Homo sapiens: one gene and its partners. The protein of the gene in region 6 interacts with the protein of the main gene of each other region in a pairwise test. Each region holds a gene or a part of one and is shown on either strand. Other genes may lie near its edges. The genes, in order: NFE2L2, RET, MAP3K7, BLK, NR4A1, STAT3 and LMO2.

The links.
Region 1: the proteins of STAT3 (region 6) and NFE2L2 interact in binary tests that used the Homo sapiens proteins (3 or more experiments, as listed by UniProt).
Region 2: the proteins of STAT3 (region 6) and RET interact in binary tests that used the Homo sapiens proteins (3 or more experiments, as listed by UniProt).
Region 3: the proteins of STAT3 (region 6) and MAP3K7 interact in binary tests that used the Homo sapiens proteins (3 or more experiments, as listed by UniProt).
Region 4: the proteins of STAT3 (region 6) and BLK interact in binary tests that used the Homo sapiens proteins (3 or more experiments, as listed by UniProt).
Region 5: the proteins of STAT3 (region 6) and NR4A1 interact in binary tests that used the Homo sapiens proteins (3 or more experiments, as listed by UniProt).
Region 7: the proteins of STAT3 (region 6) and LMO2 interact in binary tests that used the Homo sapiens proteins (3 or more experiments, as listed by UniProt).

What each region holds. Positions count from the first base shown.
Region 1 is NC_000002.12:177,233,728-177,237,227, reverse strand, and holds part of NFE2L2 (nuclear factor erythroid 2-related factor 2), read left to right. Parts: intron 1-2,956; coding exon 2,957-3,223; intron 3,224-3,500.
Region 2 is NC_000010.11:43,083,569-43,087,068, forward strand, and holds part of RET (proto-oncogene tyrosine-protein kinase receptor Ret isoform a precursor), read left to right. Parts: intron 1-3,500. UniProt on the Homo sapiens protein: Receptor tyrosine-protein kinase involved in numerous cellular mechanisms including cell proliferation, neuronal navigation, cell migration, and cell differentiation in response to glia cell line-derived growth family factors (GDNF, NRTN, ARTN, PSPN and GDF15).
Region 3 is NC_000006.12:90,542,073-90,545,572, reverse strand, and holds part of MAP3K7 (mitogen-activated protein kinase kinase kinase 7), read left to right. Parts: intron 1-940; coding exon 941-1,021; intron 1,022-3,500. UniProt on the Homo sapiens protein: Serine/threonine kinase which acts as an essential component of the MAP kinase signal transduction pathway. Plays an important role in the cascades of cellular responses evoked by changes in the environment.
Region 4 is NC_000008.11:11,556,887-11,560,386, forward strand, and holds part of BLK (tyrosine-protein kinase Blk), read left to right. Parts: coding exon of another isoform or gene 1-29; intron 30-1,003; exon of another isoform or gene 1,004-1,075; coding exon 1,076-1,152; exon of another isoform or gene 1,153-1,379; intron 1,380-3,500. UniProt on the Homo sapiens protein: Non-receptor tyrosine kinase involved in B-lymphocyte development, differentiation and signaling. B-cell receptor (BCR) signaling requires a tight regulation of several protein tyrosine kinases and phosphatases, and associated coreceptors.
Region 5 is NC_000012.12:52,054,442-52,057,222, forward strand, and holds part of NR4A1 (nuclear receptor subfamily 4immunitygroup A member 1), read left to right. Parts: coding exon 1-763; intron 764-1,588; coding exon 1,589-1,718; intron 1,719-2,052; coding exon 2,053-2,204; intron 2,205-2,615; coding exon 2,616-2,781. UniProt on the Homo sapiens protein: Orphan nuclear receptor. Binds the NGFI-B response element (NBRE) 5'-AAAGGTCA-3'. Binds 9-cis-retinoic acid outside of its ligand-binding (NR LBD) domain.
Region 6 is NC_000017.11:42,325,943-42,329,442, reverse strand, and holds part of STAT3 (signal transducer and activator of transcription 3), read left to right. Parts: coding exon 1-33; intron 34-3,243; coding exon 3,244-3,327; intron 3,328-3,500. UniProt on the Homo sapiens protein: Signal transducer and transcription activator that mediates cellular responses to interleukins, KITLG/SCF, LEP and other growth factors. Once activated, recruits coactivators, such as NCOA1 or MED1, to the promoter region of the target gene.
Region 7 is NC_000011.10:33,885,577-33,889,076, reverse strand, and holds part of LMO2 (rhombotin-2), read left to right. Parts: intron 1-3,500. UniProt on the Homo sapiens protein: Acts with TAL1/SCL to regulate red blood cell development. Also acts with LDB1 to maintain erythroid precursors in an immature state.

The DNA of each region.
Region 1 (3,500 bases), on a different chromosome or scaffold from region 6:
CCATGCAGCCTCTGGTTCCATGATGCAACCAATGGCAGATTGGTTCAAAAATATTTGGAAAAAGGCCAAGCACAGTGGAGTGGTTCATGCCTGTAATCCTAGCACTTTGGGAAGCTGAGGCAGGAAAATCAATGGAGCCCGGGAATTCAAGACCAGCCTGGGCAAAATGGCAAGACGCCATCTCTACAAAAAGTAATTAGCTGGGCTTGGTGGCATGTGCCTGTAGTCCCAGCTACTTGGGAGGCTGAGGTGGGAGGATCACTTGAGCCCAGGTGAAGGCTGCAGTGAGCCATGATTGCATCACCACACTCCAGCCTGGGTGACAGAGTGAGACCCTATCTCAAAATGAGTAAATAAATAATAAAATTTCAAAAGGAAAAAAGTGGAAAAAAAACCCGAAAAAATAACAATACACACATAAAATACAGTATAACAACTATTTACACAGCATTTACACTTTACTAGGTATTGTAAGTAATCCAGGGATGAGTTAAAGTATATAAAGGGATATGCATAGGTTATTTGCAGCAAATGCCATGCCATTTTATAATAGTGTAGGCTCATGGCTAATAAAGCATGAACCCGACTGAAGCTGCCTGGGTATGTGTCTTTGTTCAGCCACTTTCTGGTAGTATCTTTTTTCTTAACCTCAGTATTCTTATACTGTATAACAGGAATGTTTTCTCTGTATAAGGCTGTTTTGAGGAATAGTTTCTATATGTAAAGTACTTAGAACAGTGCATAGCATATAGGAAGCCCTTAATAGATACTGGCTTAAAGATAATTAGGTATGTCCTAGTGAGGTATACCTAACTACAAGTGCTACTTTAACTATGCCTACTTTGTGTGCTTTACAATATATATTGTTCAAGGCTAGAATAATGAGCCCCATGAGCAGGGTTTCATAGCATTTAAGATTCCAACGCCAACCTTCAATCATGGACACAGGTGGCCTGTGCCATCTAGCTAGCTGCGCTGCCTCCAGGCTGGGTGGCCTGCTCCTCTGTTGGATAAAAATAGCCTGACTCCTCACTGAAACAACCACCATGTTATTTGCGTCCTTGGGAAGCTGAAAGTAATAGAACTCTAAGTCTGGCGTTGCCAGCTGTCAGCAGAATGAAATGCAAAGTGTGACGTGTCTACACTGTACCCACTGGCCTTCAAGTCCCAACTCCCGTTCCCCCATCTTGATTTTTTTCCATTCTCAAATTAATTATTTCCCCTATAGGTGATTTGTGGAATGGAAACAGATTTAGATTTCCTACCTATTTAGATTTTTCCAAAGACTAAAATTACAAATCAGAAAAACTGCTATTGACACATTTTTGGTTAGGAAAATCTGGATGTGGTTCCTATGCCTAGCCTAGTCATATAAATTCTCTCCCCATGTATCTTTTTGTGTGTGTGAAACAGGGTCTTGTCACCCAAGCTGGAGTGCAGTGGTACAATCACAGCTCACCATGGCCTTGACTTCCTGGGCTCAAGCAATCCTCTCACTTCAGTCTCCCTAATAGTTGGGACTACAGGCTCGTATCACCACGTGCAACTAATTTGTTTTGATTTTGGGTAGAAACAGGTGTCACTATGGTGCCCAGGCTAGTAACTCCTGTGCTCCAGCAATCCTCCTGCCTTGGCCTCCCAAACTCCTGGGATTACAGGCCTGAGTCACCAAGCTCAGCCTCTCCTCATCAAAACCATTCCCTCTTTGTAAGATTCTTCCTATGTCTTAAAACTTAATACCTTTAATCCTTCCCTGGAGCCATAGTTTTATTTATTTATTTATTTATTTATGAGACAGGGTCTCACTTTGTTGCCCGGGCTGGAGTGCAGTGACACGATCATAGCTCACTGCTGCCATGACCTCCTGGACTGAAGTGATCCTCCTACCTCAGCCTCCTGAGTAGCTGGGACCACAGGTGTGCGCCACCACACCAGTTGTTGTTGTTGTTGTTTGTTTTTGTTTTGGTAGAAACAGGGTCTCTCCATGTTGCCCAGGCTGGTCGCGAACTCCTGGGCTCAAGCAATCCACCTGCCTCAGCCTCCCAAAGTGCTGGGCTTGTAGGCGTGAGCCACCGCACCTGTCCCTGTCTGCTTTTATTTTATTTTTTTTTGAGATGGAGTCTTGCTCTGTTGCCCAGGCTGGAGTGCAGTGGTGCGATCTCAGCTGACTGCAACCTCTGCCTCCCAGGTTCAAGCCGATTCTCCTGCCTCAGCCTCCTGAGTAGCTGGGATTACAGGCACGTACCACCACACCCGGCTGATTTTTGTATTTTTAGTAGAGACGTGGTTTCACCATGTTGGCCAGGCTGATCTCGAACTCCAGACCTCAGGTGATCCACCCACCTTGGCCTCCCAAAGTGCTGGGATTACAGGCATATAGGTAAGCCACAGAGATAAGAGTAGCAAGCAGTGATGGGGAGAAGATAATCTAGTGTAGGAAAGATGGAAAGAATGGTGATATTTCACAACTGCTAGATTGACACTTTAACTTGAGAGTTATCCCTCTATAAACTGGATATTTGCTGAGCAAAGTTTAAAGAAAACTCCATGTATTCAGTAATGTTTTCCAGACCCCACTTCTCTTATATAAGCCAGTGGCTTAGAGTGCTTGCTCTAATTTCTATATTCCATTAAACAAGGGTGGGATTTCTTCTCATTCAAACCATTTGTGACTTTGCCCTTTAGTGACCTCTACCATCACCCTATCATTAATGATCCAAGTGATTAGAATGGATGGCTATGTGTTTGTAGGTTGTTTGTTGTCTTTAATGAATAGATTCATTGAATGGAATTAACTGTGCTCTTCTAGAACATTGGATCTGTGTTCTCATTTAGATTGTATTTGTAATCTCCCCACTTCCCACCATCAACAGTGGCATAATGTGAATTAATTTATGTGGTATCTGTCATTTAAAAAACATGAGCTCTCTCCTTCCTTTTTTTGTCTTAAACATAGGACATGGATTTGATTGACATACTTTGGAGGCAAGATATAGATCTTGGAGTAAGTCGAGAAGTATTTGACTTCAGTCAGCGACGGAAAGAGTATGAGCTGGAAAAACAGAAAAAACTTGAAAAGGAAAGACAAGAACAACTCCAAAAGGAGCAAGAGAAAGCCTTTTTCGCTCAGTTACAACTAGATGAAGAGACAGGTGAATTTCTCCCAATTCAGCCAGCCCAGCACATCCAGTCAGAAACCAGTGGATCTGCCAACTACTCCCAGGTACAGAGTACTCAGTTCTTGGGAAAGTTATGGCAGGTTTAAGGAAACACTGAGCAAGGAATTAAAATATCTGGATTTGAGTTCCAGCTTTGCCTTTCTTTTACTTAACCTTGTCAAATCTACTTTCCAACCTCAGCCTCCTGATGAGTTCAGTACCTAACCTGAGTTCAGTACCCAACCTATTGATCTTAACAGTGTTATTGTGAGGATTGGGAAGACTTAAGTTACACCAAAGAGTTTTGTAAAGTATAGAAACATCCTGTAAGGATCAAGTAGC
Region 2 (3,500 bases), on a different chromosome or scaffold from region 6:
CCGTGGGATCCTGTCACATGGTCGTTCTCACCCCAGGAGGCTTCAAGTACAGAGGACGCGGGGATGGGGGCACGCAGGGGTGTACCTGCACACACTTCTGCCTACCAGCTCTCCATCCCTTGTCCTGGTCCACATAGCAGGGGCTCCTGGCGGGCCCAGCAGCTGAGGGGGACAGAGGGGGAAACAGGGTAGCAAATAATTATGGTTTACTCTTTTTTAATTGTGAAATTTGTGTAACATAAGTTTAACCATTTATAAGTGAACCATTTGGTGGCATTTAGCACATTTACAGCATTGAACAGGCATTGCCTTAGTTCCAAAAAATTTGCATCACCCCAAAAGGAAACCCCATACCCATTAAACAGCTGCTTCCTGTCCCCGGGCAACCCCCAGCCTGCGTTCTGTCTCTGCGGCTTGGCCTGTCCTGGAACATTTCATCTGCATGGACTGTTGTCTGGCTTCACTCAGCATAAGGTCTTCAGGGTTCCTCTAGGCTGTGGCACACATCAGCCCCTTCCTGTGAGGGGTAAATAGTGTGCCGTCACCCATTCATCTGGGGATGGACACGTGGGTGCTTTCCACCTTTTGGCAGTTATGAAAAATGCTGCCAGGGACATTCCTGTTATAAATACCTGAGTTCGTGCTTTCAGTTCTTTTGGGTACATACCTGGACATGAAATCGCTAGGTAATTCTGTTTTATATTTTGTGGAGCCGCCAAACTGTTTTCCACAGTGGTTGAATTGTGTTACATTCCCAAGGGTTACAATCTATCCACATTCTCACCACCACGCATTATTCTCTGTTATTCTCTGGTTCATGTCTCACTCTGGCCGTGCAGCCAGTGCACAGTGCTAGCTCGTTGTGGCTTTGGTTTGCCTTTCCCCGGTGATGGCGTGCTGGGCATCTTTTCCTGTGCATGCTGGCCAGTTGCATGTCTCTTTGGAGAAGCATCTCTTCGAGCCCTCTGCCTGTTGTCTAACTAGATGGCTGTCTTGCCATACAGCTGACTTTGCTGTTGCATCTGCATCAAGAGCTGCAGAGAAGCAGCTTTATCCAGGGCCGTCACTGTCAGTGATTGAGCCCCAGGTCCCTTGTGAGGAGAGTGTGGATTCGTCTGATTCCTCACATGGGCATTGAATCACCACTGCCCTCGAGGACCTTGAGGACATTCTCGGAAGACCTGGACTCTGAGGCCACGTTGAGCACCAACATCTGGAAACCATGGTGTCACTGCTTGTGCATAAGAAGGGGCCTCTCAGGAACCGCCCTGTGAAGGATGGAGGAAGGGGAAGGTGCAAGGAGCCAGCAGACCCCCACCCCACTGACAAGACGAGACTCAGCAGCAGGGGAACCAGGGCCGCCCTCTCTCGCTCATCCTGAACCCTGACTCTAAAAATAACCAGGCTGATAATCGGATCCGCTGTAAGTTGATTATCATCATTGCCGTGGTGTGATGTCATGCTGCCAGGCCCTGGGGCAGTTTTCTCAGGACAGCGGTGGATGCACCTAGGCAGCTCTGGAGGCCAGCATGGAGCTGGGGGGCCCTGAACCGAGGGTGGCAGGCAGCCTCTGTGGGCTCCTGCAAATCTGCTTGGTGGGGGTGGAACACTGGCATCCATAGGCAGGCACTCTGTGCTCCCAAGGAGGAGTTCCTGTCCCCATTCGCAGCTAGGGACAGAGCCAGGGAAGCCAAGTGCCCAGCCCTGGCAAACAGCGGGGAAGCACAGGGGCATGGGCTGGGCCGCTCTGCCCTGCGTTTCTGCTCCTTCCTGCTGCTGAACTCTCTCCTTTCTGCTGCTGAACTCTCTCCTTTGGACTAGGCCTTTGTCTTCTTGCCTCATCGTCAGTGGCCTGGGAGGACACTTGCAGTCTTAATCCTGTTTTGGCCCCATGTCCCTCACCCCCCAGGGGCCACCTAGGCCAGAGCCTGTCCTGATTTCCATCTCGGCCACCGTCTGCCCCTCGGCCCCTGGTCAGGAGCTCATTCTGTGGATACTCCTGCATAGACATCACGTGGACTCAAAGGGCATGAGGACCTCGGCTGAGAGGAGCTTACACATCAGTGCAAACCTCTCATTTTACACAGGGAGAAATCGAGGCCCTGAGGGAGGCGTGAGTTGTCACACATGGGGGTAGTGTCAGATGAAGACTTGGCACCACTTCCCTGGGCATCCCCTTCCCTGCATGGCATCCCCAGCCTTGGGTTTGGATTCTTCTTCACCCTTGATGTTGAGGTCTTTGCTCCCAGGACCTGGATAACAGCATCCAGATGCAGGTGGTGCCCCCGCATCGGGCTGCCTGGCTGTGACCTGGGGCATCAGGATTGTCAGCTTGTCTGGCCCCAGGTCTGTGCTGGGCTGAAACCTACTGTCTCAGAGGCTCCTGGCTCTCTCCCTCTGCTCTCCACTGCTCTTAAGAGCAGACCCTCAAGCCTTTTTTGTGTCCTCTCTCCAGGGAGAGCCCAGCTTCTACTCTGCAGCCCAATGCAGAAGGGGTGGTAGCTCACGGTGCCTCGGCTTCTCTGCATGCCTGTCACTGAACAGAGAAGCCCAGGCCAGACTGCAGCTTAATTCCTAGCCTCTGTGTGGCCTCCAGCAGGGTACCTAAGCTAGTGCTGCCTCATTTTCCTCCTGTGTGAGATGGGAATCCTCATGGTCCCTACCTCTGACAGTTGTTTTGATGCAGTGGGTGATGCAGATGAAGCGCCCGGAGCAGACCTGCTCATGAGGAGCACACCGTGGATTCCTACTGGTTAATGTTGAACAGGGATGAGAAGGGGCTGGGGTAGGGCGAAAATGGGCAAGACCATCTCAGCTTGAGGAACATGAGCTGACAGATTGACTTAAATTTGCACATGGACATGATCTGAGTCACTGCCTTGCTGAGTGCATGGGGACAGTTGCCCAGGCCAGAGGCACCAGGGTCAAAGCCAGTGGTGATGCCCTGGCCCCGTTGCCCCAGGCCAGGGCCAGTGAACAATGTAATCAGCTGGGGCAGACTCTACAGCCCTGCAGCCAAGGGGGCCAGTGACCCTTACATGGTCATCCACAGGCCACTTGGGTGGCCAGTCCTGTTCAGCCAGGCCTTGCCCTAGGAAAGAAATTAATTATAACCTAATTGGCAGTTTCCTTTGCATAGAAGCCGGAAGCAACTGCCAGTGAGGCTGGTGATTAACTCTGCAGCAGCTGGGAAATTGCAGTTGGGCAGGAGCGCCCATCATCCTGGCCAGGCCGCTGCAGCTGGTCTGGGTATGGAAGTGTGGGTGGTGGCCATCGTGCAGCTTAGGGCCTGGGCCCCTCAGAGCAGAAGGCTGGGTCTGTGTGCAGAAGGTAGCCTTGGGCTGCCAGGTCCCCCAGTGCCCAGTTGCGGACCTCCTTCTCCCAAACCTCAGCCATGCCTGGACCCCTTCCCCACTCACGGCAGAAGGCTGCATGGCTTTTAGGGGTGTCAGGAGGCTCATGTCCTGGTTGCAGTTCTACCATGGGTGTGCAGCGGGAAT
Region 3 (3,500 bases), on a different chromosome or scaffold from region 6:
TGAACCCTACTCACCGGGACATACCCTCATGCTTTGAGGAACCCTTTTCACTTCAGGGATGTTGTTCAGGATAGATCTGCCACATACTAATTGCTGTCTCAAAACTGAAAATTGTTATAATAATGGTTTCATGTCTTCGCTAGTATCATATTTCTAGTCAAGCACTGGTTTTTTATTATTATTTACAGAAATGACTTTGCTAGAAGGATAACCACACACATTAAAATTTTGCCTAAGTGTAGAACAAATGCTATTGTACATCCCTTGAGTTTTACACAATTTAAATTTTTTCATGAATTGTCTTACTTGGAAAGAGTCATACTTTCCAGCCTTTTGACAGACTTTGTGTTTACTGTGAATGTACCCTAAACTTTGGAAAATATAATAAATATTTGGTACTAGAAATATGTATAAGTATGACTACAAAAGCATATACATTTCACACTTTGATTCAATAATTATTATTTAATCATTGGATTTTACTTTATAGCACACTTCAAGAAACACCTAACTTGAACATGTATTCCTGTGTTTGTGTAATTAAAACAAATACGACAACTTACTTTTTAACGCCTTTCTTCCTCTCCTCCTTCGTTCCCCCACCCCCATCACAGATCAGTGATTTCACTTAGGTAGACTGTTTCTATGAATATATTTGAAATTTTGCTTCCTCATTACCCTGCAGCTTTGTCTCTGTTCTTTTTATTTTTTTCTGCTAATTAAAACCAGTGTGTAAAACATCTTGTATTTGGTAGTTGTTTGCTCTTTAATCTCGCCTTTTCTGAGCATGGATGAAAAGTTAGGTAGTTCTGCATGCCATTCTGCATGAAATGTTATTAACATGAACTATTTGAAAATGAGTCTATTTTTGTAGTTAATCATTTTCCGTGTTACTGTTTGTGGTTGTTTGCATGTATACTGTATATATGTGTTTTTGCAGCCTATTCCAAGCCTAAACGGGGCCACCGTAAAACTGCTTCATTTGGCAACATTCTGGATGTCCCTGAGATCGTCATATCAGGTATCATAGACCACCTGAGTTGGTCTAATAGCTGTGGAACCGGAATAATGATCCCTGGTACTTGTAAAATGCTTCTTGCTCCAATTTTTACAAGACATGAAAATGGATACCTTGCATGCAGTAATTAGGGAGACAGATTGAAAAACTACATTTATTCTGAAGCAGTCTTGAAAAGATACCTCTGATCTACAATAAGTGAGGATAAAATAGAAGAGAAAGTAAACCTTTTTGGAGAAGGGAGAACACCAACCCAGAATTCTACCAACTTCCTCTCTACTTTTAAGTGAGCACATGAGCTAAACCCAGACCTTTTTTGCACCCAACAGAAAGAGGAAACAACTAATTAAAATTTGTTATTTTCCTTGGCTCCTTTCCTTCCTCAGTTACTGCTTTTTGGGTCCCCTCTAGACTTTCTGTCCTAACCTCTTTCTGTTGGTAGCAAGTGAATGTGAAGTTGAGAGAAGAGAGTTGCTAAATAGCATTTTGCCTTAACCTGGAAAACAAAAAGTAAAGCTAAATGAGATGTGCTGTTTTGCAGGGTATCTTGCCAAAGAATCATGTAAAATAGTTGGTCAATTCTGATTTTTGTGTATTATCAGGAGAATCTCATAAATTACATGTTTTTATACCTAACTTACACATGGTACTTTAGTGTCTAAAATTGGTAAACTGCTTTATTTCTTATGGTGATCATTTCATAGAGGAATATGTTACCATTTTTAATAGAAACTTAAATGGCATATTGACCTTCAGTATTGATTAATGTATTATCAAAATTATCATTTATTTATCCCTTTAGGCTTTTCTCTACCTCTTTACCCAAAATCTTGATAAGGAAATACATATTTTCCACACACGTTCATGAGTGCGAGTTGGATGAATTCTTCAGCATGCTGTCCTTTGCCTGTGATTGTGTTTTTAGCAGTGTTGATAATTCTAGTTGAATACCTAATGGTTATTTTCTCCTCTACTAAACTGAAAACTATGTAAGGATAGAATCCATATCTTTGTGCATTATTTTGTTGTTGTTGCTTATTATTGATTGTATCAGCAGTTGCTGGCTCAGTGCTTCACATATTAAGCATATTAACATAGTGTTTAATAAATACATTTATTAAATAAATGAACAGACCTATTGAGCATCTCCCCTGGTGAGAAACTAGCATACAAAAATATGAATTATACTATTCTTAGGTGCCATTTTGTCTGTATAAAACTATCTTATATTAATTTTCCCCTGGTTATCAAAGTGGTTTCTTATTTTACAACATCATTACTATTGCTATTCAAAGAGTAGAGTTAACCCATTTTTCACATGGTAATTTTTATTTATTGAATCTGGACTGCTTCAGAAATTAACAAAGAGATCATTTTACATGGAGATCAGTTTACCTCCATGCGGAAAGGTACTGTGTATAAGGGACGTACTTTAAAGAGGTGGAAGCATTTAAACTTACATACCGCTGAACTGTGCTTCCCTTAAATGTTTGAGGGAATCAGGAAAATTTAGACAGATGGCAGTGTAATCTTATGACTAAGCATTAAGAATAAATTTATATATGGCAGCGTAGCCCACGCTATACAAGATAATGGGGGAGGGAAAAATAAGGAAAGAATAATAGTTTATAACTGTCAGGTACTACTGGCATCTAGTGGGCAGAGACCAGGGATGCTGCTAAACATCCTGATGTGTACCAGGCAGTCTTCTCCAACAAAGAATGATCCAGCCCAAAATGGCAGCAGTGCTGAGGCTGAAAACCCCTGATTAGATGTTCTTTGTGCCCTACAAAGTAGCTTAAAGTACATCTTATTTTACCTTTATACAATCTTACAACTAGGTTATCGGATGAAATTATAGCTGTTTAACAGACGAAGAACTTAGATCTGATGATGTTTAGTGGTTTTTCCAGAATCATATAGCCAGGACCCCAACCCAGATCTTCTGACTCCAAGTCACATCCATTTTTTGTTCTTTTGTTTAAGTCAGAGAAGCTAGAGTAATTTCTTCTTGCTTTCTCTTAGTGTTCACATTAAGGAGAGCTCTTCAGCCAGGGAGATCCTCTTTTATGACATTGGGCCTTTATGGAATCAGGTAACCTTAATTCTCTTAATTGCCAGAGCAGCAGTGCTATTCATATGAAAATATTATTCAGTAATACCTTTTATTAAATATTCTTTTTAGGCTTTTCCCCCCTCAGATATCAAACATTAACTTACTCAGGTGCACTTTCTTTAATAGAAGAATACAAGCTGTAGAATTGACACTAGTGGACATAAAAGCCAATCATGAATGTGCTCATAGGTAATGTTTTTAAATTAAATATAAAAATACCGCCCATCCTTTGGGAATATCTCAAATTTCCTACATGACATTTTAATTGTAAAGAAGGGTGATACTTAATTTCCAAAATTTCTTAATACTTTCTAGAAATTGTTTTGTTCTAAGTGGATTTCCCACAAGCTTTATGGTATTAGCAAA
Region 4 (3,500 bases), on a different chromosome or scaffold from region 6:
GCTTAGCAGGAGGAGGAGGGTCCGCTGCGGTGGGTTCACCAGGCCAGGGGGTCCTGCAGATCTAGGGCATGGCACGGTGTGGGGACAGGGAGGGATGGAGGGAGGGGGAGGGACAGAGGGAGGGTGAGAAACAGGAGGGTGAAGTGGTTCTGACAGAGCCATGTTCTCAGCCCAGGAGCAGTTCAGACAGCATTTCTGGAGTGCATCTTCTGTGCCTAGCACTCTTTGATGCCTGCTGGGAGGGACAGAGCATTGCAAAGTCAGACGAACACCAGGCCAGGCATGCAGGGACAGTACTAGATCCAGGTCTCCTGCCTCCTGGTCATGCAACCATTTACAACTGTGTGAATATTTTACAAGGATGGCCAGAGAGGTTGGGCTTGATGGCCTCTGAGGTCCACGGCGTGGCCAAGTTCTCATGCCACTTTCTCACCCTCCTATGACCCTGACCGCACACTGCTCCTATAGGATCCTAACATGCCCATGTTGATATAGCTCCCTAACAACTGTCACCAAGGGGCCCCCGGTCGGAGGCTGTGCTGGGGGTGCCTCTAGCCTGCCCCTAGGGCAAGCATCCATCCCTCCCAGCTTTCTGATTCCAGGGGGAGCTGCATTTGTCCCCTGCACCAAACCTGGGGGACAGTTCTCTCCATTCTGGTGCTTTCTTGCTGATGCCTGGTCCTCAGAGGCAGAGGGTGTCTGCCAGCAGGGATCAAGGGAGCGAGGCCAACACGGGGGGAAAGACAAGAAGGGGCATGAAACTTCGAGTCAGAACTGGGGTCCCACTCCCAGCTCCCGGCTGGGTGACTTCAGACAGGTCCCTGCACCTGGCTGAAACCTAACTTCTGGGCAACTGCTGGTATATTGGCTGCCTCCCGGGGTGCTGAGACTGGCATTTTGTAAAGTGGAAGGCACTCGGCAGCAGTAGGTAGATCCTTCCTGATGCACCGAGAGATCTGAGGGTGCAAACTCCCACTTCCCGCGCCCATGGGGAGCCACTCACACCAGAGAGAGGCTGGCACCACCAGGGGCGGGTCACTTTGCAGAAGGGCACTTGCAACTTCTCTTTTCTTAGGATGCCTGCTGGATTTCCTGAAGACAGATGAAGGGAGCAGATTGTCACTCCCAAGGCTGATTGACATGTCGGCGCAGGTTGGTGAAGTACCAGGTGCAGAGAAAGGGCGGCATGTGCCACCTGCTGCCCACAATGGCTGCTCGTGCCTTACCACCCCATCCTCTCAGCCAGCAGGAGAAGTCAGGGGGTACTGAAGGCCACCTTCCTCTAGGCAGATATCCCCAAGGTCACCCACTGCACTTGGACTTGCAAACCCTGGCCACTGTGCCTCCTGCCCCACGCAGCTGTGAGGGAGCCCAGGGAATGGAGCCTTAGACCCGGGCTGCTGTGTTGGAATGAGGCTATTCTGTTCCGAAGGAAGAGAGGGCGAATGAATGTCATGGGAAACACACAGAGTTAGCAAGAGTTCCATTGAACCCGGCAGGCAAGTGTGTTCTGTTGTGACCTCATCTCTTCCTTAGATGGTGCCCACAAACATCTCCTGTAGGACTTCCCATCCCAGGGGCCCTCAGCCTTTGCACAGCCCTGGCGTCGACCCCAGGCTGATGGGCAGGCCTGAGCTACACACAGATGCCAGGGACATGACTTCTCTGAGCCCTGGAGGACAGCCCCACCTTCTGCCACCAGGGAATTGCGAGTGCTGGACCTCCTTGGCTACCCAGGACTGGTCCTCAGTGTCCCTCACGTTCACATGCAGAACTTTCTGGACTCCATGGGGTGAAGAGCAGAGTGGAGAGGAGGGTTTTAGCCGAGAGCTCTAGCTGGCAGGAAGCACATCTGGTGGCCCTGTTAAAACTGGAACTCTCAGCAGAAAAGTTTTGGTCTGTGGTCAGCCTGTGAGGCACACACGTGCGTACACATACACACACACATACAGCTGCCACCGAGAGGAAACGCTCCCACCCACCGCCCACATCAGCCCTCCCACCTCGCCCCTCGCCCAGCCTTACCCAGTAGCGCCGCTGCAGGAACTGATGCCACAACGCCTTTTTCCGCTGAGGTGGGCAGACAGCCATCTGGGCAGGCTGGTTTTGGAAAATGAGTGCTGGTAACCGGCTTCAAACCCCAGGGCAGTGATAAGCCTGCCCACTGCTGCTGCTTCCTTTCCCCTTCCTTCTCTCACCCTCCGCTGTCTCCTATTCAATCCCCACTACACCCCCTTGGGAAATCTCGTGTGACCCAGGGGCAAAGGATGTGAAAAGCCATCGGAGTTTAATACCTGGATGTAGCCACAGAATCGGGGGTGAGGAGCCAGAAAATCAGAACTTCCCAGAAGGGCAGCCTCTAACCACATGCTGACCATGCCAATGGCTCTCTAAGCACACATGTACACACACACACTCTCACACACATAAAAACACAGACTCACACACACACGGACAAACACAAACACATACACAGACTCACACAGACACGCAAACTCACACACAGACAGACACACACACAGACACACAGACTCACACACACAAACTCACACAGACACACAAATACACAGACTCAGACTCAAACACAAACTCACACAAACACATTTACACAAACTCACAAACTCACACACACAAACACACACACAAACACGCAAACTTACACACACATGAGCAGACACACACCCGGCCCTTCTGGGCTCTTCTTTTCTTACTCCATAGGAAGCCATGCAAAGTCTCGCCAGACCTTTCTTCCAAGGCCAGATCTGGCCAACCCCACAGGAACCCTGCAATCACAATCCCTCGGGCCCCACTTTGCAGCCAGATGCCACCGGTTCCCATGCCCCATGCCTCGCCACCCCTCTACCTCCTCTGCCCAGGAAGCCTTGAACACTTCCCACCTGGCAGAATCCTTATCATCATCCATGGCTCAAGCGTAATGTCATTTCTATGAAGGTTTCCCTGGACAAGAAACTGCCAGAGAGCCCTTAGCTCAGGTGTTCCCGGAAGCACTGTTCTTGCTCAGCAGATCTGGGCAGCTTCTTCTTGAAAGCAGATCTGGGCCCTACTCAACATTTTTTAAAATATATTTCTGGTACTGTTCAATAAATATTAGTTATCAGAACGAGTACTGTTAGATGCTGCCCAGATATATTTAGTACTCAGTTTTATATTCCCCACAGTCCCATATTAGTAAATGAGTATTGATTGCATGGTGTAGCAAGGGGATGGATGGATGCATGGATGGGTGGATGCGTGGGTGGGTGGGTGGGTGGGTGGGTGGGTGGATGGATGGATGCATGGATGGATGGATGGATGGATGGATGGATGGATGCATGCATGGATGGATGAATGGGTGGATGGATGGATGGGTGGGTGGGTGGGTGGATGGATGGATGGATCCATGGATGGATGGATACATGGAAGGATGCATAGATGGATGGATGGATGGATACATGGATGGATGCATGGATGTGTTGATGGATGGATGGGTGGGTGGATGG
Region 5 (2,781 bases), on a different chromosome or scaffold from region 6:
CAGCCCCGAGGCAGCCCCCGCTGCCCCCACTGCCCTGCCCAGCTTCAGCACCTTCATGGACGGCTACACAGGAGAGTTTGACACCTTCCTCTACCAGCTGCCAGGAACAGTCCAGCCATGCTCCTCAGCCTCCTCCTCGGCCTCCTCCACATCCTCGTCCTCAGCCACCTCCCCTGCCTCTGCCTCCTTCAAGTTCGAGGACTTCCAGGTGTACGGCTGCTACCCCGGCCCCCTGAGCGGCCCAGTGGATGAGGCCCTGTCCTCCAGTGGCTCTGACTACTATGGCAGCCCCTGCTCGGCCCCGTCGCCCTCCACGCCCAGCTTCCAGCCGCCCCAGCTCTCTCCCTGGGATGGCTCCTTCGGCCACTTCTCGCCCAGCCAGACTTACGAAGGCCTGCGGGCATGGACAGAGCAGCTGCCCAAAGCCTCTGGGCCCCCACAGCCTCCAGCCTTCTTTTCCTTCAGTCCTCCCACCGGCCCCAGCCCCAGCCTGGCCCAGAGCCCCCTGAAGTTGTTCCCCTCACAGGCCACCCACCAGCTGGGGGAGGGAGAGAGCTATTCCATGCCTACGGCCTTCCCAGGTTTGGCACCCACTTCTCCACACCTTGAGGGCTCGGGGATACTGGATACACCCGTGACCTCAACCAAGGCCCGGAGCGGGGCCCCAGGTGGAAGTGAAGGCCGCTGTGCTGTGTGTGGGGACAACGCTTCATGCCAGCATTATGGTGTCCGCACATGTGAGGGCTGCAAGGGCTTCTTCAAGGTACCGCGCAGCCCCAGGTGGGGCCTTTTGTTGGAAATGGAGAGAGGCTGGCCTCATCCCATTGGGACCTGTGGTCTCCCCCTGGGTTCTCCTCCTAGCTAAGTCCTGTCCTGCAGGGTGGGATCAGCCCTGCCAGGTGGGCCGCCTTCCTGGAGACCCGTAGATGCCAGGGCTGGAAGCTTTCATTTGCCGGGACACTCGGGCCCATGGGATTGCACAGAGCTGGAGGGAGGGGTGAGATAGGGGCAGATAGGAGCTGCAGGGGTGCCTGGCGAGCCTCTGGTTTTCCTCTGCTCCTCTGCCTGTCCTCTCCCAACTCAAGGTTCTAGTGGGAAGGGGTGCCCCCAGGCTCTCATGTTCCTGGCGTGAGATGAAAGGATCCCTGCGGAGGGTTTGGTTCTTGAGGGCTGGGGGTGGACTTGGGAACAGGCTGTGTGTTTGTCCCAGCGATGGTGCCTGCTTAGCTTCCCGTCCCCACCCCCCAGCCCCTTGGCCCTCTCCTGTCTGCCCTAGGGAGAAGGCAGGTGGACAAGGGCCCATGAAAAAATACAGGTGTCTAGACTGCCAGGGAGACCCTGGCCCCCAGTAGTGTGTCCTGGGGACTTCCTCAGAGCGAGAAACCTCCCCCAATGTCTTCAAGACTTTTCTCTCCCCCCGCCCAACCCCGTCTCTCCCTCCCTTGCCACCCAAATGTTAGAAAAATAGCTGTGAACAGAGAGCGCTTTTGTCTGCAATGGCAGCAGGATCTGGACGGTCCCCTCCCCTAAGTTCCCCCCTCCCCACCCCACACTCTGACAGCTTGTTCCGTGTTGCCCCCCCACCCAGCGCACAGTGCAGAAAAACGCCAAGTACATCTGCCTGGCTAACAAGGACTGCCCTGTGGACAAGAGGCGGCGAAACCGCTGCCAGTTCTGCCGCTTCCAGAAGTGCCTGGCGGTGGGCATGGTGAAGGAAGGTGTGTGGCTGGGGTGCGGCCCAGCGGGGCAAGGGTAGGCTTGAGTGGAGTGGGACCAGCAGGGCCCCCAGGCTTCTGCCCTGGAGGACCCAGAGGAGGGCACGTCTTATTTCCACCCCACCTCTGAACCCCAGGCCTTGGAGGGAGGCAGCCTACACCTGCCTGGATTGTGAGGGTGGTGGCAGGGGGAGGTTCCTATAGGGTACCTTGGATCTCAGGGACTCTGGGTCCTAGGGACTCGGTGGGGCGCGTCTCAGCAGTGGTGTGCACGGCTTGGGCTGAGAGGCCCTTCCTCAGATCCCTTCCTTCCTCACCCCTACCCATTCCTTTGCAGTTGTCCGAACAGACAGCCTGAAGGGGCGGCGGGGCCGGCTACCTTCAAAACCCAAGCAGCCCCCAGATGCCTCCCCTGCCAATCTCCTCACTTCCCTGGTCCGTGCACACCTGGACTCAGGGCCCAGCACTGCCAAACTGGACTACTCCAAGGTGAGGTCCCACCCCGTGTCTGCCTTGGGGAGGTCTATGAGCACATGCAGTGCCTTTGTGCGTGTTAGGAGAGCTACCCCCTCTGGAAGGACTGAATGAGAAAGGAGGTTTAAAAAAGAAAGAAAGAAAAGCGACTCCCTCCAGTTCGACAGATCAAAGAGAGGATCCCCCTCTCGGCTGACCAGATGGGAAAATGCACCCCCTCAGGCAGGTGGCCAATTAGAAAAATATGTCCTTTTGGCAGCTGCAGCCCTGGGTTAATATGTGAGACTTGGCAAGTGAGAGCCTGGGCAGGATCTCAGATCCACTCCCACTCCCGGGATCTGGCATCCAAGTGTCTGACACAGCCATACGTGGCAGTGGGTGTAGGAGCCTGCCTGGGGTGCTGACCCCACTGGACCGTCTTCCTAGTTCCAGGAGCTGGTGCTGCCCCACTTTGGGAAGGAAGATGCTGGGGATGTACAGCAGTTCTACGACCTGCTCTCCGGTTCTCTGGAGGTCATCCGCAAGTGGGCGGAGAAGATCCCTGGCTTTGCTGAGCTGTCACCGGCTGACCAGGACCTGTTGCTGGAGTCGG
Region 6 (3,500 bases):
AGATGTGGGAATGGGGGCCGAGCCAATTGTGATGTAAGTTTTGTTGGGGATGAAAGACAACTGGGGTGTTTTCCTTGAGGGAGAGAGGGGTAAAGATCCTTCTTAATCCCCAGAATTAGAAACATCAACCTGTTCTTTCAGCTGTAGTTATTCCAAAAAGTCACTTCAGGCCAAAGTGACATGAACAGAAGTTCCATGTGCCATGGAGCTCTCTGGCTTGGAACATTTCCGTGAATATCTGGGAGTTGGCTCCTCCTTAAGGAGAAGTGGAAAGTCCCTTGCTGAGTTGTTCTCCACACCCATGTGGTATAAAGCAGCTTTCCACCTTGCCTGGGGCTTTCCAAATTCCCCATCCAGCTCCTGCGGCTGACCCTGCTTGGCTCCATTTTTAGTGCCCTGTTTTTCTCTCCCACTGAGGTGGGATAGAGGGTGTAAAAGCAACAGATTTGAGTTAAACTTTAAAATAAATGACCACCTTGCATTAGCTTGCTTAGGAAAAGAGTACATAAAATAAAATGAACAAACAAAAACCCATCTTGTTCTTTATCCCCCTTATTTTCTGCTTTTCATTGATTCAGATTATTGGATTCTTATTGTCAAGAATAAACTTTAAACAAACAAACAAAAAAAGGTAAATGTGACGGAAGGCTAGTTTTCAGTCATTTTTAAAAATTGTGATGCCCCGTTCTTTTTCTTACATTTGTCCCCTGAACAATTCTTCCTCTTTAAAATGTAGCAGTCCTAGCTGGGCGTGCTGGCTCACACCCCGTACTTTGGGATGCCAAGGCAGGCTGGTCACTTGAGGTCAGGAGTTCAAGACCAGCCTGGCCAACATGGTGAAAGCCCGTCTCTACTAAAGATACAAAAATTAGCTGGGTGTGGTGGTGCACGCCTGTAGTCCCAGTTACTGGGGAGGCTGAGGCATGAGAATCGCTTGAACCTGAGAGGTGGAGCTTGCAGTGAGCCAAGATTTTGCCACTGCACTCTAGCCTGGGCAACAGAGTGAAACTCTGTCTCAAAAAAATAAATAAAATAAAATGTAGCAGTCCTTTTTAAAAATGTGGAATTTTACTTGACAGTAGAGTGAAGTAGCCTGTATGCAATGATATGGGAAAATGTACATGACATATTAAGAAAAAGCAAAATGTAAAATAATTTGAATAGTATTATTAGTATATGTGTTTTAAAAATACACTATACTCTTATGTGTATTCATATGTATATTAAGAAATTCTGGAGGAATATACCAGCAGTGCTATGTGTATTAGTGCTGCTGTTGGTATCCATGGCTATTCTAGACTGTCTCTGTGATATTTGCATTTTAAACTGAATATATTACTTTTATAATCAGAAAAATAGTATTAAAAATGAATTATAATTTAATTTCTTTTTTCTTTTTTTTTTTTGAGTCGGAGTCTCGTTCTATCGGATTGCAGTGGTGCGATCTCAGCTCACTGCAACCTCTGCCTCCTAGGTTCAAGCGATTCTCCTGTCTCAGCCTCCCAAGTAGCTGGGACGATAGGTGCATGCCACCACGCCTGGCTAATTTTTGCATTTTTAGTAGAGACAGGGTTTCACCATATTGGTCAGGCTGGTCTTGAACTCCTGACCTCGTGATCCACCCATCTCGGCCTCCGAAAGTGCTGGGATTACAGGCATGAGCCGCTGTGCCCAGACTAGAATTCAATTTTTGAGAATTCATTGACAACTCTTACTTAAAATAAGGTTGCTGTACTGATGTGAGACATTGTTGTAGTCAGTTTGGAAAACAATTTGGCAGTATAAAAATGAACATACCTGTAAACCAACGGTGCCATTCCCAGGATTTAATAGCAGAGAAATCTTTGCATATATGTCCCAGGAGACATATATAAAGTGGACATCAGCCTGATTATAAGCTCTAAATGCAACCCAAATAAATACCCATCAACATTAGAATGAATACATTATTTGTGGTATAGACACAATGGAATACTCCGCAGCTGTGAAAAGGAATACACTGCAGATACACATAACCATGTGGATTCATTTCACATCAAGTGAAAAGTGAATCCCAAAAGAATTCATTGGAGTCCATAAGTGTAAGGTTCACAAATGTCCCAAACTAAACAATACCTGCATTGCTTAGATAAACAAATATGGTAAAACTGTAAAAAAACAAAACAAAACAAGACAAAAAGGGCTAGGAAATGATAAACCCAAAAGACAAAATAGCAGTTATTTCTGAGGGAGGAGGGAAGGGGATGGGGTTGGGGAAGGGCACCCAGAGAATTTTAGGAGTGATGGACTTTTCCTTAAATTGAATGGTGGGTTCATATTGTTTTGTTATTCTTTGTGCCTTACGTATTTTACAAATAACCAATTGGATCTATGTAATATTATAATACAAACTGAGTAAAGGATTAGGTTGAGGATCACAGCATTGGAAGTTCTTGGTGTTGAAGAGAGTAAGTGCCGAGCAAGTTGTGTCCCTGGCAGTTTGTTTGTGACCACCTGGTGGCTTACCCTTCTTGGTGTGGTGAGGCTTGGCATGTCACTTTCCTTGGCTGTGGCTGTTAGTACTGAATGCCATTCTCTCTGAGGAAAAGTGTCCTTCTCTTTTTTATTGATTGACTGATTGATTGAGACAGAGTCTCACTCTGTCACCCAGGCTGGAGTGCAGTGGCGTGATCTCGGCTCACTGCATCCTCTGCCTCCTGGGTTCAAGCGATTCTCCTGCCTCAGCCTCCTGAGTAGCTGGGACTACAGGCGCCCACTACCACACCCAGCTAATTTTTGTATTCTTAGTAGAAACGGGGTTTCACCAAATTATTGGCCAGGCTGGTCTCGAACTCCTGACCATGTGATCCACCTGCCTCGGCCTCCCAAAATGCTGGGATTGTAGGTGTGAGCCATCACGCTCAGCCTTTTTTTTTATTTAATTTAATTTTTTTTTAAGACAGGGTCTCACTCTGTCACCCCAGCTAGAGTGCAGTGGCACAATCATAGCTCGCTGCAGCCTCCATCTCCTAGGCTCAAGCCATCCTCCCACCTCAGCCTCTCGAGTAGCTGGGGCTATAGGTGTGCACCACCACACCCAGCTAATTTTTGTATTTTTTGCAGAGATGGAGTTTTGCTGTGCTGCTTAGACTGGTCTCGAACTCCTGGGCTCAGGCAATCCTCCTGCCTTGGCCTCCCAAAGTGCTGGGATTACAGGCATGAGCCACCACACCTGGCCTAAGAGTGTCCTTCTCGTTACTGTAGGCTTCCCTGATTGTGACTGAGGAGCTGCACCTGATCACCTTTGAGACCGAGGTGTATCACCAAGGCCTCAAGATTGACCTAGAGGTAAGTTCTGCAGCAGAATCGGTGAGAGGCTACGTACAGGGGTGACTCAGGACAAAAACTTCCACTGGGATTTTTACAAGAGAAGGTGGAATGATTACTGTTTGCTTAACACTGTGTTTATTTTTGCTTACTTTTCTCCAAAAAAATCCTTGGCATCCCATCTGGCAATAAAG
Region 7 (3,500 bases), on a different chromosome or scaffold from region 6:
TATTAAAGATCCATTTTCTCAGTTACAAAGATCCAAGACTCCTCGAGGGTATTCTACCCTAACGGAAATAGGACAGGCTTTGTAGTCAGACTTGAACCCTGGCTTTGGCGACTACTAGCTGTCCTGCCTGGAGAAGTTGCGTACCCTTCCTGAGCCTCAGTTTTCCCTTTCATTGAATCAGGATGATAATACACACTTCATTCATCCACTCAGCAAGTGTTTACTGGGCGCCTCATACACAGCAGGAACTGTTCTAGGCACTGCGGATACGTAGACGTCAACAAAACAAACATTGCTCTTGCCTGAAAGGGGCTTACAAACTTGAGAGGGGGAGACAGACACCAATCAAATAAGCAAGTACACATATAGTATGCCAGATGGCAATATGTGCTAGGGAGAAAAATAACACAGAGTGAGGGAAAATGGAATGCGCTGGCCCGGGTTATTAGTGTCTTACTCAGGTGATGAAGGAAGACCTTTCTAATAAGAAGAACTCACATCTGGGGAAGAATGTTCCCGGAAGAAGGAGAAGAGCAAAGGCCCTAAAGCAAGAGTTTGAAGAATGACAAGGGGTCCTGTGTGGATGAAGCAGAGGGAGGGAAGGAGGAAGGGAGTGTAAGAGAAGGGGACACAGAGATGGCTAGAGCCAGATATGCAGGGCCTTATAGGACTTTGGCTTTTTACTCTGGGCAAGAAGGAAACCTTGGGAGAGCTTCAAGCAGAGGAGCGAAATGATCTGATGCAGGTTATGAAAGGATCCCCCTGGCAGTGGCACAGAGTATGGCCCCTGACCTGTGTGGATGGGGCAGAAGCATAAGGCTGGCCATTTGCATCCCACAAATGACCTCAGTGTGAGGGATGAGCGAGATCATATACGAATGCGCTTGCGTGAGTATGCATAGAGCAAGTGCTCAAGCCATGGCAGCTTCTATCAATGGCCCTGCAGCTGCCTGGCTATAGCTCCCTGGTCTCCTGCAGACAAGTCTTGGCCAGTCACGTGAGTGCCTCTGTCATTGCCCACTCAGTCATTCCCCCTGCCCCCACCTCCTTTCTTCAACCCTTCACTGGTGGTTAAGCTCCTAGCACAGCAGCCTCACCTCCAGCCTCTCCCCACCCCAACCCAACCCAAATGCAACTCCACTCACATCCTTCCCCTGTTCAAGAGTCTTCCATGGACTAGTGGCTCATTAAATCCACATTCTTGGCTAGGTGCAGTGGCTCACACCTGTAATCCCATCACTTTGGGAGGCCAAGGCGGGCAGATGGCTTGAGCCCAGGAGTTTGAGATCAGCCTGAGCAACATGGCAAAACCCCATCTCTACAAAAAGCAAACAAACAAACAAACAAAAAACAAAACAAAAGAACAAAACAAAAATTAGCCAAGCGTGGTGGCACACACAGCTGCTTGGGAGGTTGAGGTGGGAGGATCACCTGAACTCAGAAGGTCAAGGCTGCAGTGAACCACAGTATCACCACTGCACTCCAGCCTGAGCAACAGAGCAAGACCCTGTCTCAAAAAAAAAAAAAAAAAAAAAATCCACATTCCTGGAGACTTGCAGCTAAGGCCTTCCACAATAAGATGCTGCATTTACGTTTCCCACCCATAATCAACTGCTATCCCAAACATATTGAATATCTGTGGAGAAGTATGGGTGGGTGCAATATGTCACTCCTAGCAGAATCACTGAGGAAACTGACCACACTCATGATGGAAAATTGACGGTAATGAGTCCTTCCCTCAGGTTCCCCAACCCCACAATATGCCCTAACCATGGTGGACATGTATTCCTGTCTGTCACTGGCTCACTTCTCCCACCAGGCTACCGCAAACTCCACAATGATGTATATTCTCTTAAAGCTACAAAATGGCTTGTGGTTTCCAAATCAGTTTTCCTTACTGCTCTTATCTCCCTTGATACTTGCCCCTATGGGCCCCTCATCCATAATAAAATGCCCTCATTTTACACTTACTAGTTCTGACAAGAGTCCCAGGTTCCAAGTCATGGATTCCCATGTGGGATTGCTCCTCTGATCCTTCATTCCTATATCTTTTTTCAATCTATCCACAATTCACAAGGCATCGGTGTCAGACCAATGGCAAATAATAAGTGGGACCTGCTGGCTATGGATGGAAGAGCGAAGTCCCTGACAACATGTTTCTACCAGCCTGGAAATGAGGCTCTCCCATCCCCTAACACATCTACCAGTTGTGATGGATTTAAAGGCTGGCTAATGTTAAGCTTGTTCCACAGGGGATAGAATATTGGCCCCTGGACTGACACCTACCACCATGTGGATCTTGGAGCAAGACAAAGGAGCCCCCCAACATTCGTGTTCTGAAATAACAATGCCTGAGGCTGTCTATTCCCCACCACGGATGCCAAAGCACAGACAGCCACTCACAGCTGTGGGATACAGATGCCCCTGTCATTATAAAAGGCCAGCCCTAAATGCTATTACAGAGTCTAAAAACTGAAAATGTTATTGTGAAACCTTTAGGTTTTTTATAGCTGGCTATGCCTGATATAGCTGGTGGCCTGGGACACAGTTTCCCTACTCAGCGCTGGGACACCTCGGCAATACTGCACCCACAGTGTCATCCCTATCTGTTTGGAATGTACAATTCTTCTACAACACCATGGGCCAGGAATATCACATCATCCTGAGAAGCCATCAGGACAAACAAAAAGGAATGTGGTCCTGTATGTTTAGTCCCACCTCCCCTACAAACTACTTTTATCATAGAAATGATGCCCAATTGTCAGCCCAGCGCATGTGGTGTCCTCCAGCACCCCTTCTAAATGTGCCCTCAAGCACCCCTTCTGCTTTGTGCATCTTTGTGACACCCTTCCAGATGTCAGCCTATATCTCCATGACCCAAATCTGACTTAAGAGTTGTGGCCGGGCATGGTGGCTCATGCCTGTAATCCCAGCACTTTGGGAGGCCAAGGCAGGTGGATCACCTGAAGTCAGGAGTTTGAGACGAGCCTGGCCAACATGGTGAAACCCCGTCTCTACTAAAAATACAAAAAAATTAGCCAAGCTTGGTGGTGGGCACCTGCAATCCCAGCTACTTGGGAGGCTGAGGCAGGAGAATTGCTTGAACCTGGGAGGCAGAGGCTGCAATGAGCCAAGATTGTGCCATTGCACTCCAGCCTAGGTGACAAGAGCGAAACTCTGGCTCAAAAAAAAAAAAGGTGTACCAGCCCAGGGAGACAATGGCCACATTGCAGGTGATGACCACAGCCCAGCCAACCACTGCATCCTGGAGGCTGCCCACCAGTTACCCACATCATCTACCAAGGGACCCCCTTGCTGGAGCACAAACAGCTTCCCTTGGGGGATCCCTCAATCAGCATTTGTCACATACCTGAAAAGGGTGGCCACCACACAGGCCACCAAAGTTATAACTCTCTCCTCTCACTTCCTCCCCATTGGGCACAATAAACCTCATTGCCATTGTGGCTGGAACTTCCCTTCCTGGGCCTCCCAAAGCAATT